Linked DNA regions of Homo sapiens: region 2 is linked to region 1. The links come from fine-mapping of genetic effects on gene expression. Tissue or cell type: whole blood. Region 1 holds a variant in brackets; the other region holds the start of a gene. All regions are shown on one strand. Distances are from middle to middle.

Region 1 (5,377 bases):
TCGGGCTCCCAAAGTGCTGGGATTCCAGGAGTGAGCCACCGCGCCCGGCCGTCCACTTTGCTTCTTGCAGAGGCTGATGGTTTGAGTAATTTCCGAGATTCATAGCTCGAGCGCGCCCTGTTCTGTCTATGCAGTGAAGGGCAGCTTTTTGCATCCACGGCTTTTTGTTGCCAAGGAGGAATGTGCAGTGGCCAGATTTGTTTCTTCCCCTTTTGTTGCTGTTTTGTTGTTGCTGCTGCTGTTATTGTTGTTGTTGTTGTATTTTATTTTGTAGCATCCTAAAGTGTCCCCTCCTTCTATTTCTTATCCTTATCCAGGTAGGGTTTAGAAAAGCTAACTTAAGGGGCAGGGGAGAGAGAGAAAGAGAGGAAGAGAAAATGAGAATGAATGACAATACATGAACCCATGGGTCAACCTTTATTTCAAGGCAGCCCAAAAGGACGGCTCTCCCTTCTCTTTCACTCTCTTCTCTAGGTGTGAAGCTGATGCAGCACAGGCGAGCCCCAAAATTGAGGCTTAGCCCGGGGGGGTTCTTGGCTTCTCCTAGAAACTAATTCAAGAAGCCGGGCGCACTGGCTCACGCCTGTAATCCCAGCACTTTGGGAGGCTGAGGCGGATGGATCACTTGAGGTAAGGAGTTCGAGACCAGCCTGGCCAACATGGTGAAACCCCATCTCTACTAAATATACAAAAATTACCCGGGCATGGGGACGGGTGCCTGTAATCCCAGCTGTTCAGGAGGCTGAGGCAGGGGAATCGCTTGAACCCGGGAGGCGGAGGTTGCAGTGAACAGAGATCGTGTCACTGCACTCCAACCTGGGTGAGACTCTGTCCTAAAAAAAAAGAAAAAAAAAAAAAAAAAGGCCAGGCGCGGTGTCTCATGCCTGTAATCCCAGCACTTTGGGAGGGCAAGGTGGGCAGATCATGGGGTTAGGAGTTGTAGACCAGCCTGGCCAATGTGGTGAAACCCCGTCTCTACTAAAAATAGAAAAATTAGCCAGGCGTGGTGGCATGTGCCTATAGTCCCAGCTACTCAAGAGGCTGAGGCAGAAGAATCACTTGTACCCAGGAGGCGGAGGTTGCAGTGAGCCGAGATCGCACCACTGCACTCCAGCCTGGGTGAGACTCTGTCTCAAAAAAAAAAAAAGGTGCATTAAATGTTGCCTGGAAGGTGCAGGGATTGAGGGGAAAGGGACATGCTGTGTTTGTGGCATGCAGGAAGGGATTGTGGGAGAATCCCTGTGAGGAAGCAGAGGACCTTTACCCCTGGAAGATTCACATAGCCGCTACCTAATTCTAAAGACAAGTCCCCTAGAAATTTGGTAAGACAATAGTAAAATAACCTTTTGGATCTCAAAAATCTGTAGGACTCTGTGTATGGATGGGAACTGTCTGAAGGTCATTAAGGTTAATGACGTGAAGAACGGAGTTCAGCACTTTGTTCTATCTCTCGGGTGCCTGAACATTCTGTTCAAAGCAGAAACAGAACTTGATCTGCAAGTGCCACTTAATGGAGCATCACTGGTCCCCTGGAGCAAAAAATGTCCCCAGGACTGCTTTTCCTTCCTCCCATCCCCGGCTGAAATGTTCACACTCACTGCGGCTTCTCTAGTAAGAATATCTGCAGATTCTGCAGATCTTCTGGCAAGATTGATGAACCTGAGAGAAATATCAACGAAAATGATACAAAAGTATGCAGATTTCTTTCAGATGCAAACGTTTGTTTGTTGTTTTGTTTTTTGTTTTTTTTTGTGTGTGTAACAGAGTCTCACTCTGTCACCCAGGCTGGATTGCAGTGGCACAATCTCGGCTCACTTCAACCTCCGCCCTCCGAGTTCAAGCAATTCTCCTGCCTCAGCCTCTGGAGTAGCTGGGATTACAGGAGCCTGCCACCACGCCCAGCTAATTTCTGTATTTTCAGTAGAGACGGGGTTTCACCATCTTGGCCAGGCTGGTCTTGAACTCCTGGCCTCGTGATCCACCCGCCTCGGCCTCCCAAAGTGCTGGGATTACAGGCGTGAGCTACCATGCCCCACCACAAACGTTTGGCTTATTAATTTTTGTTTATATGGTTAGAGAAGAGTACAGAATGGGAGAGAAGTTCTGGGTTCTGTATTAAAAACTCACTGTTGGCTGGGCGCAGTGGTTCACGCCTGTAATCCCAGCACTTTGGGAGGCCGAGGCAGTTGGATCACCTGAGGTCAGGAGTTGGAGACCAGCCTGGCCAACATGGTGAAACCCCATCTCTACTAAAAATACAAAATTAGCCTGGAGTGGTGACACATGCCTGTAATTCCAGCTACTCGGGAGGCTGAGGCAGGAGAATTGCTTGAACCCGGAAGGCGGAGGTTGCAGTGAGCCGAGATCTTGCCATTGCACTCCAGCCAGGCAATAAGAGTGAAACTCCCTCTCAAAAAAAACAGAAAAAGAAAAGAAAAAAAAACGAACTCACTGTTTCTGGATTCTGTCCTCCCTAACAGGCACCTTACCTTAGAGAGCCTAGAACCCTCAAGGTCCCCAAGGATGTGTGGGATTTGAGTACCGTTGTTGGACATCTTCAGCTTTGTGCAATAGAACTGATGAACATCAACTAATAGGGAAGGCCCACGTAGCTCTGGAGGAAGCGGGGCCATGTAGAACTAAAGAGCACTGTATTAGCTTCCTGTGCCTGCCAGAGCAAACCACCACACTATCGTGGGTTATTCTCTCACAGTGCTGGAGGCCAGAAGTCCAAAATCAAGGTATCGGTCAGGCCACATTCCCTCTGGAGGCTCTGGGGAAGGATCCTTCCTGGTCTCTTCCAGCGCCTGGTGGCTGCAGACCTTCGGTGGCTTATGGCTGCAACACTCCAGTCTCTGCCTCCAACTTCATGTGGCCTTCTACTCTGTGTGCCTGTGTCTTCTCCTCTTTTTTATCTCATAAGGATACTTGTTATTGGATTTAAGGCCCACCAGGTAATTAATGATACTCTCATCTTGAGATTCTTCACTTGATGCCATCTGCAAAGACCCTTTTTCCAAATAAGGTCACATTGGTAGGTTCCAGAGGTTGGGACGTGAACGTATCTTTTGGGGACCATAAGTCACAGATTACAAACACAGA[C/T]TTGGAATGAAAGTGCCTGGGATCAAATCCCAGCTCTGCCACTTAGGAGCTACATGACTTCGTAAAATGATTAACCACTCTGAACACCCCCTTTTTTAACTCTAAAATAGAGATAATAATAGTTCCCTGGTATGTATGAAAGCATTTATGAAACATCAAGTATTGGCATTTTGTCCTCACTCCTACCTGACTTTATATATTTGATTTCAACTCAACCTCAGATTCATTTCTCAGATGTGATCCATTGAAATTTCAGGTTGTTCTATGTTAGTGAAGATATTTCCCTCCCGACACATCAAGCGCTCAAGCCTTTCTGCCCTCACCTCACTGCAGCATTGAGAAAACCAGTTGTTTAAATTAAGTGAAATTTGGCCTAAAGCTGCCTCCTTATGTGGCAAACTGTAACCTAACAATATATAAACAAACTTCAACCAAACTTAAGAGTAGATGGCTGGGCACGGTGGCTCACGCCTGTAACCTCAGCACTTTGGGAGGCCGAGGCAGGCAGATCATTTGAGGTCAGGAGTTCAAGACCAACCTGGCCAACATGGTGAAACCCCCTCTCTTTTTACAAAAAAAAAAAAAAATTAGCCGGGCATGGTGGCGTATGCCCGTAGTCCCAGCTACTCGGGAGGTTGAGGCAGGAGAATCGCTTGAACCCGGGAGGCAGAGGTTGCAGTGAGCCGAGATCCTGCCACTGCACTCCAGCCTGGGTGACAGAGCAACACCCTGTCTCAAAAAAAAAAAAAAAAAAAAAAGAAAGAAATAATTGAGGGAGTGAGGCTACAGATAATGATATATGAAGCAATCCCACTGGTTAAGCACTTAATCTCCAAAGGTGTTCGTATTTTGTCACAAAAGGTATATATGTAGTCAGAAGAACAATCATATAGAATAAGAGAGAAATTCTGAATTCTGTGTTGAGAACTTACTGTGTTTGGTTTCTGTCCTCCCTTCCTAACATCTTCAATAGCCTGAAACCTTAGCTCCATTAAGGACATCTGGGCACTGGTGCATGTTTTAGGGATCTTAAATTGAGTCTGGGCTTATATGCAGAGGGGAAATTATTGGACAAGATGGGGCCCAGCCCATAGTTAGTGTTCGTATAATTCACCGAGTATCAAATAAATGAAAGGATCAGAAGAGTAAATCTGTGGCATAGGATAAGGGGACAGTTAGCACTCTCCAGGGAAACAGAATCAACAGGAAAGTGATTGATTTCAAGAAATTGGGCTGGGTACGGCGGCTCATGCCTGTAATCCCAACACTTTAGGAGGCAGAGGTGGGTGGATTGCATGAGGTCAAGAGTTCAAGACCAGCCTGGCCAGTATGGGGAAACCCCGTCTCTACTAAAAACACAAAAATTAGCTGGGCATGGTGGCGCACGCCTGTAATCCCAGCTACTTGGGAGGCTGAGGCACAAGAATCGCTTGAACCCAGAAGGCGGAGGTTGCAGTGAGCTGAGATCGTGCCACTGCACTCTAGCCTGGGCGACAGAGCGAGACTCTGTTTCAAAAAAAAAAAAAACACGGCAGGGAGGAGTAAAGAAATTGACGAAATTGACTCATGCAGTTGTAGAGGCTGGCAAGTCCAAAATCTGTAGGGCACGCTGGAAGTTTGGAAGCTTAGAGAGGATTTGATGCTGCAGTCTTCAGGCAGAATTTCTTCTACAGGAAACCTCTTTATGTTCTTAAGGCCTTCAACTGATTAGCTTGGGCCCACCCAGGTTATCGCCATTCATCTCCTTTATTTAAAATCAACTGATTGTAGATGTTAACTGTGTCTACGAAATACTGTCACAGCAACACCTAGGCTAGCATTTGATTAAACAAGTGGGTACTGGGCCGGGCACAGTGGCTCATGCCTGGGAGGCTGAGGCAGGTGGATCACCTGAGGTCAGGAGTTCAGGACCAGCCTGGCCAACATGGTGAAACCCCGTCTCTACTAAAAATACAAAAATTAGCCGGGTGTGGTGGCGGGCACCTGTAATCCCAGCTACTCAGGAGGCTGAGGCAGGAGAATTGCTTGAACCCGGGTGGCAGAGGTTGCAGTGAGCTGAGATTGTGCCACTGCACTCCAGCCTGGACGACAGGGCAAGATTCTGTTAAAAAAAAACAAAAAACTGCGTACTGCAGGCTAGCCAAGCTGACACAAAAGTCTAAACATCACAGACATCATCAGGGTCAACCGGTAGAAATTAAAGGACTTAAATTAGTGTTTCAGTAGGCATGCTTGAACCGGAATAGACACTGTGGGGGGAGGGGCGTGCAGAGTT
Region 2 (5,377 bases), 140 kb before region 1:
CACTCCAGCCTGGTGACAGAGTGAAGACTCTGTCTCAAAAAAAAAAAAAAAAAAAAAAAAAAAAGGAAAGAAAAGGGGGGATTTAGGGGAGGGAGAGCATTATGACAAATACCTAATGCATGCAGGGCTTAATACCTAGGTGACGGGTTGATTGGTGCAGCAAACCAGCATGGCACATGTATACCTATGTAATAAACCTGCATGTTCAGCACATGTATCCCAGATTTGAAATAAAATTCTTTTAAAAAAGGGGGGGGGATTTAAAGACAGAGACAGGCATGTATACAGAGAGGAAACCATGTGAACATGGAAGCAGGGATTGGGGTGAGGCTCTACTGACCAAGGGCCGCCAAACTATTGCCAGCAAACCACCAGTCATCCGAAAGAAGACCTTGATAGCAGAAGGATCCTGTTCAGAATTCTGTGTTGCATTCAGTCGTAGCTTTTTTTTTTTTTTTTTTTTTTTTTTGGACAGAGTTTTGCTCTTGTTGCCCAGGCTGGAGTGCAATGGCACGATCTTGGGCTCACTGCAACCTCCGCCTCCTGGGTTTAAGCGATTCTGCTGCCTCAGCCTCCCGAGTAGCAGGGATTACAGGCATGTGCCACCATGCCGGGCTAATTTTTTTGTATTTTTAGTAGAGACGGGGTTTCTCCACGTTGGTTAGGCTGGTCTCGAACTCCTGACCTCAGGTGATCTGCCCACCTCAGCCTCCCAAATTGCTGGGATTACAGGTGTGAGCCATCGCGCCCAGCCTCGGCCATGTCTTCTTAGTCTCCTCCAATCTCGAACGGTTCCTCAATCTTTCCTTGATTTTCATGACCTTGACATTTTTGAAGCTTACAGGCCAGTTATTTTGTAAACCATCCCTCCATGTGGGTTCGTCTGACGTCTGATTATGATGAGATTCAGGAATCTTACAGAAGCGATGCTGTTCTCGTGACATCCTGTCAGGTGGTGTGAAATTCCAACTTGTCACATTACTGATGATGTCCACTTTCATTGACTAAGATGGTGTTTGCCACGTTTCTCCACTATAACGTAACTCCTTTGAAATTGGTATTTTGTAGGGAGGTATTTTGAGCTCTGTAAATATCAAACTTCTCACTTAGCTTTTTATTTATCTGAGTATGGACTCCTGGTTTCTTCTGTGGTCCTGTATAATTTGTTACTATCATTATTTATTTTGACTCTCAAACTGCCCAGTATGGCCAATGGAGCTTCTTCAAGCAGACTCCTGTGTTCTTTCCACATGTTCTCACAACACTTTGAGCAATTTCTTGCTTTAAGCATAGGACGTTTGTAGGCTCATCTTGTTCTTTTTTTGCTCTAGACATGGAATCAGCCAAATTTCCTAGGCACTCTGGTTCCATTTGGTGGAGAATGGTATATAGAAGTCAAGATTTGGATGCTAGTGGTGCTCATTCATATGGGCCATCATTGTTTCTATGTTCTCTTAGTGGAGAGAGCTAGAGAATATGTGTACAAATGTTCCTATACACACTGAAACTATGTGTTTATTTTTATCTCTCTATGTATAATTGAGATCCATGAGGACATACCAACGCCTCCAGTTATAGTCCAACACCACAGGGCTCATTCGACTTTCCTCCTTTCTGTCTTAGTAACTCCCTTTTCCAACAGTAGGAGACCTGGCCCCCATTCCCCTTACTCACTGTGTGTAGCCAATTTCCCTTTTCCTTTGCCATTTCACCCCTGTGGGGATGTCTTTCCCAGCCTAGTCTGGCTTCAACACCATACACCATGCTATTCCCATGAGTGGACATTTCTCTCTCTGCTTGGGTTATGACAACCCATGCCAGATCCCCTCTATGTGGCCTCCTTCCTAATTGCCTTACAGTGCAAACCTCCACCCCAGACAATGCCTGCATATAAATGCCCCCGCCCCACTCAGCTCATGTTCCAACACTGCACACCAAGCTGCCCATCTGTGGATTTATCCCCACCATCTCCAGCCCCAACACCCTGGGTCATGCTGCCCCTCTATGTGGACTTCTCCTCACCCCACTACCCCACTGGAATGCTGGCTCTCCACGCCAGATGGCCCCCAGCCCCCTCCTCCCCTAACCCTACCTAGTGTGGAGTCGCAAAACCCCTTTGGGCTTTGACACCACCATAACTTCACACCCTCCCTGACACCCCCACCTTGCTTTTTCCCTCTAAATCATTCAGGAAAGACAGAAGGAAAGAGATGAACAGAGGAAGAGCAAATGCCATGCTCTTAGTCACCGTGTACGCCCACTTCCTGAAGTCCATGCTTGCATCCTGCTCACTCTCACACATTCCCGACTCACCCAGGAAAACTCCCTGAGGCCAGGGGTGCTGAGCTCTCCATCTCACTGCCCAGAGGCCAGTGTTGGAGTGACCCTTCACATGCTTGTTGGAACATTGAATAAATGATGCCGTCTGCTCTAATCCTCCATTTTCTTTTCTTTTTTTTCTTTTTTTTTCTTTTTTTCGAGACAGGGTCTCACTATGTCAGCCAGGCTGGAGTACAATGGTGCAATCGTAGTTCACTGCAGCCTGGAGTGCAATGGTACAATCATAGCTCACTGCAGCCTTGAACTCCTGGGCTCAAGCAATCCTCCCATCTCTGCCTTTGGAGCAGCTGGGACTACAGGTGTGTGCCACCATGCACGGCTAATTTTTTTATTTTTTGTAAAGACAGCCTCTCCGTATGTTGCTCAGCTGGTCTCAAACTCCTGGGCTCAAGCAATCCTCCCACCTCAGCCTCCCAAAGCGCTGGGACTACAGACATGAGCACCACATCCAGCCTCTAATCCCCATTTATAAAATGCACTTTCCAATTCCACTCTGGGGATAAAGGCGTCACAGAACCTGACTCTGCATTTCCCCACCCATATCATTCAAGCCAGATGGGGAGGCAGGGACAGCTCTGGTCCCTCCCCAACCCGGGTAGAGATTTCCAGCCCAGCTGTCACAGCTCTAAGACACCGGGACCGAAGGAGAAGCCAAGAGAGGCAGGAAGAGGTGGCAAAGGAGTGCTGGAGAAGATAAGGAGGCTGAGCTCCGACAGGGAGCAGGGAGGAGGGGCCATCTTGAGACTGGTGCCCTGCGAGCTCCACCCCACCCCTCCATGCAGTTCCCCATGGGCCCCGCCTGCATCTTCTTGAGGAAAGGCATTGCTGAGAAACAGCGGGTGAGGTGGGGAGTGAGGGGGAAGGGCGGTGGGCGGGGCAAAGGGAGCAGGGGTGTGGGACAAAGAAGGGGACATGATGGTGCCACAGAACCAGGGGAACAGGTGGATAGAGCAGGAGCTGAGAAGGTATAAGAAATTCCAAGGACCCTGGTGGGGTCATGTAAGCCAGTGAGATAAATGGGTGGGGGTAAAATCAAAAGTCAGGAGCAAAGAGAAGGAGAGAAAAGGAAGAAAAATGAAAAGGGAAAGTGGGATGATGTCATTGTTGAGATTACCATCATTCTTTTCTATGGATGCTCATTGTGATAATGGTGGTGATGATGGTGGTGGTGGTGATGATAATGATGACGTTAATAACAATAGCTGCCACTTATTAAGTCATTGTTCTGTGCCCAGCCCTGTGCAAAGGGATTTGCACACCTGATGTTATTTACACCTCAGAACAACTCATGAGGTCAGTGACTTTCATTCCCATTTTACAGGTGAGGAAAGTGAAGCTCTGAGTCATGAAGTCATTTGCCTTAAGCTTACACAGTTAGTAAGTGGCAGGGTCGGCCAAGTATAGTGGCTCATGCCTGAATCGCAGCATCTTGGGAGGCAGAGGCGGGAGGATCACTTATGTCCAGGAGTTTGAGACCAGCCTGGGAAACACAAGACCCCATCTCTACTAAAAATACAAAAAAATAGCTCAGCATGGTGGCATGCATCTGCAGTCCCAGCTACTCAGGTGGCTGAGGCAGGAGGATCGCTTGAGCCCAGGAAGTGGAGGCTGCAGTGAGCCCTGATTATGCCACTGCACTCCAGCCTGGGCAACAAAGTGAGACTTTGTCTCGTTAAAAAAAAGTAAGTGGCAGGGTCGGGTTTGCTTGATTCCTGTGGGCATGCTTTTTAAAATTTTTTTATTTTTCCATATATACCAACTTGTCCAGATATGTGGGCATACTTTTCATTGTTAGGCTTTAAGATCACCAAAAAAAGAGAATAAAAAAGGCCAGGCAGTGGCTCACGCCTGTGATCCCAGCCCTTTGGGAGGCCAAAGCAGGTGGATCACGAGGTCAGGAGGTCAAGACCAGCCTGGCCAAGATGGTGAAACCCTGTCTCTATTAGAAATACAAAAATTAGCCGGGTGCAGTGGCAGGCGCCTGTAATCCCAGCTACTCGGGAGGCTGAGGCAGGAGAATCGCTTGAACCCGGGAGGCAGAGGTTGCAGTGAGCCGAGTTCGTGCCACTGCACTCCAGCTTGGGTGACAGAGCGAGACTGTGTCTCAAAAAAAAAAAAGAGAGAGAGAATGAAAAAAAGGGTGATAAGGGACCGCAAGGAGGGGATCAGATGAAAGAGAAGCTGAGGGAAAGGCTCCAGGGATAAAGGGAGATGGGAAGGCTAAAGAGACCAGAGGTCAGTAGAATTTCCTTGTTAACATGCCATGTATATGTAAGCCCAACCCTTCAGGTATGTGCAGGAGTAGGTGGGGCAGCAATAACTGGACATTCTCAGAGTGTTTAGGAACTGGTCATGCTGGCACTGACCCTCCTGCCTGAAAGCCATTGAATGCTGTTTCCATGCACAGAGATTCTAACCTTTGGCAGGAAGATTGGAGGCAGGTGAGAAAGGAGTGAATGGGGGCTAGTGTGAAGAATTCTGACTTGGGAGTCAGGAGCCCTGAATTCAAATCCCAATACTGTGTCTGACTTGCCCCATGACCTCCAGGGAGCAGGTGAATGCCTTCCTCCCTTGGGAGGGGATCTGCTGCTTGTGAGCTGTGTGACCTTGTGCAGGTTCCTTAACCTCTCTGTTCCTCAGCTTTCTCATGGGTAAGATGGAAACGAGATGTAGATCTGCATCACAGAGCAGTACTGAGGTTTAAATGAAATGATTGTGGAAACTGCCTGGCACAGAGTCACCACTCTGAATGAGTTAGCTGTGGTTGTGAAGTCTCACTTTTTTCATCTGGAGATTGGACTCCCCAGTGTTTAAGACCCCCTTTGACACAATGTGATGGGTGTTTGTCTCAGAAAGGGAGAAAAAGGGAGATTGGGATTCGTGGGTGGGAGAGAGACATCGAGAGGGGGGTGGGGAGCCAAGAACTGTGGAACAGGAGTCAGGAGATGGGAAAAGGAATGGGAGGGATGGAGGAGGAGAGAGAGAATGGAAAGAGAACCACGAGAGCGTGGGGAGGAGCTTGGGAGAACAAGGAGAC

Evidence for each region. PIP is the estimated chance that this variant, and not a neighbour inherited with it, causes the effect.
Region 2: it holds the start of CABP5, and the variant in region 1 is the best candidate, but not a certain one, in a credible set for the expression of CABP5 in whole blood (TOPMed, PIP 0.87).

The regions. Positions count from the first base shown.
Region 1 is chr19:47,898,934-47,904,310 of GRCh38, reverse strand. No RefSeq gene overlaps it. Among named protein-coding and RNA genes, the nearest start is that of SNAR-A12, 6.1 kb to the left of the region's middle. The variant C/T (reference allele first, on the strand shown) is at 3,103.
Region 2 is chr19:48,041,662-48,047,038 of GRCh38, reverse strand. It overlaps CABP5 (calcium binding protein 5), which reads left to right and starts at 2,960. Exons shown (of 6, transcript NM_019855.5): 1 at 2,960-3,179. The coding sequence starts at 3,117.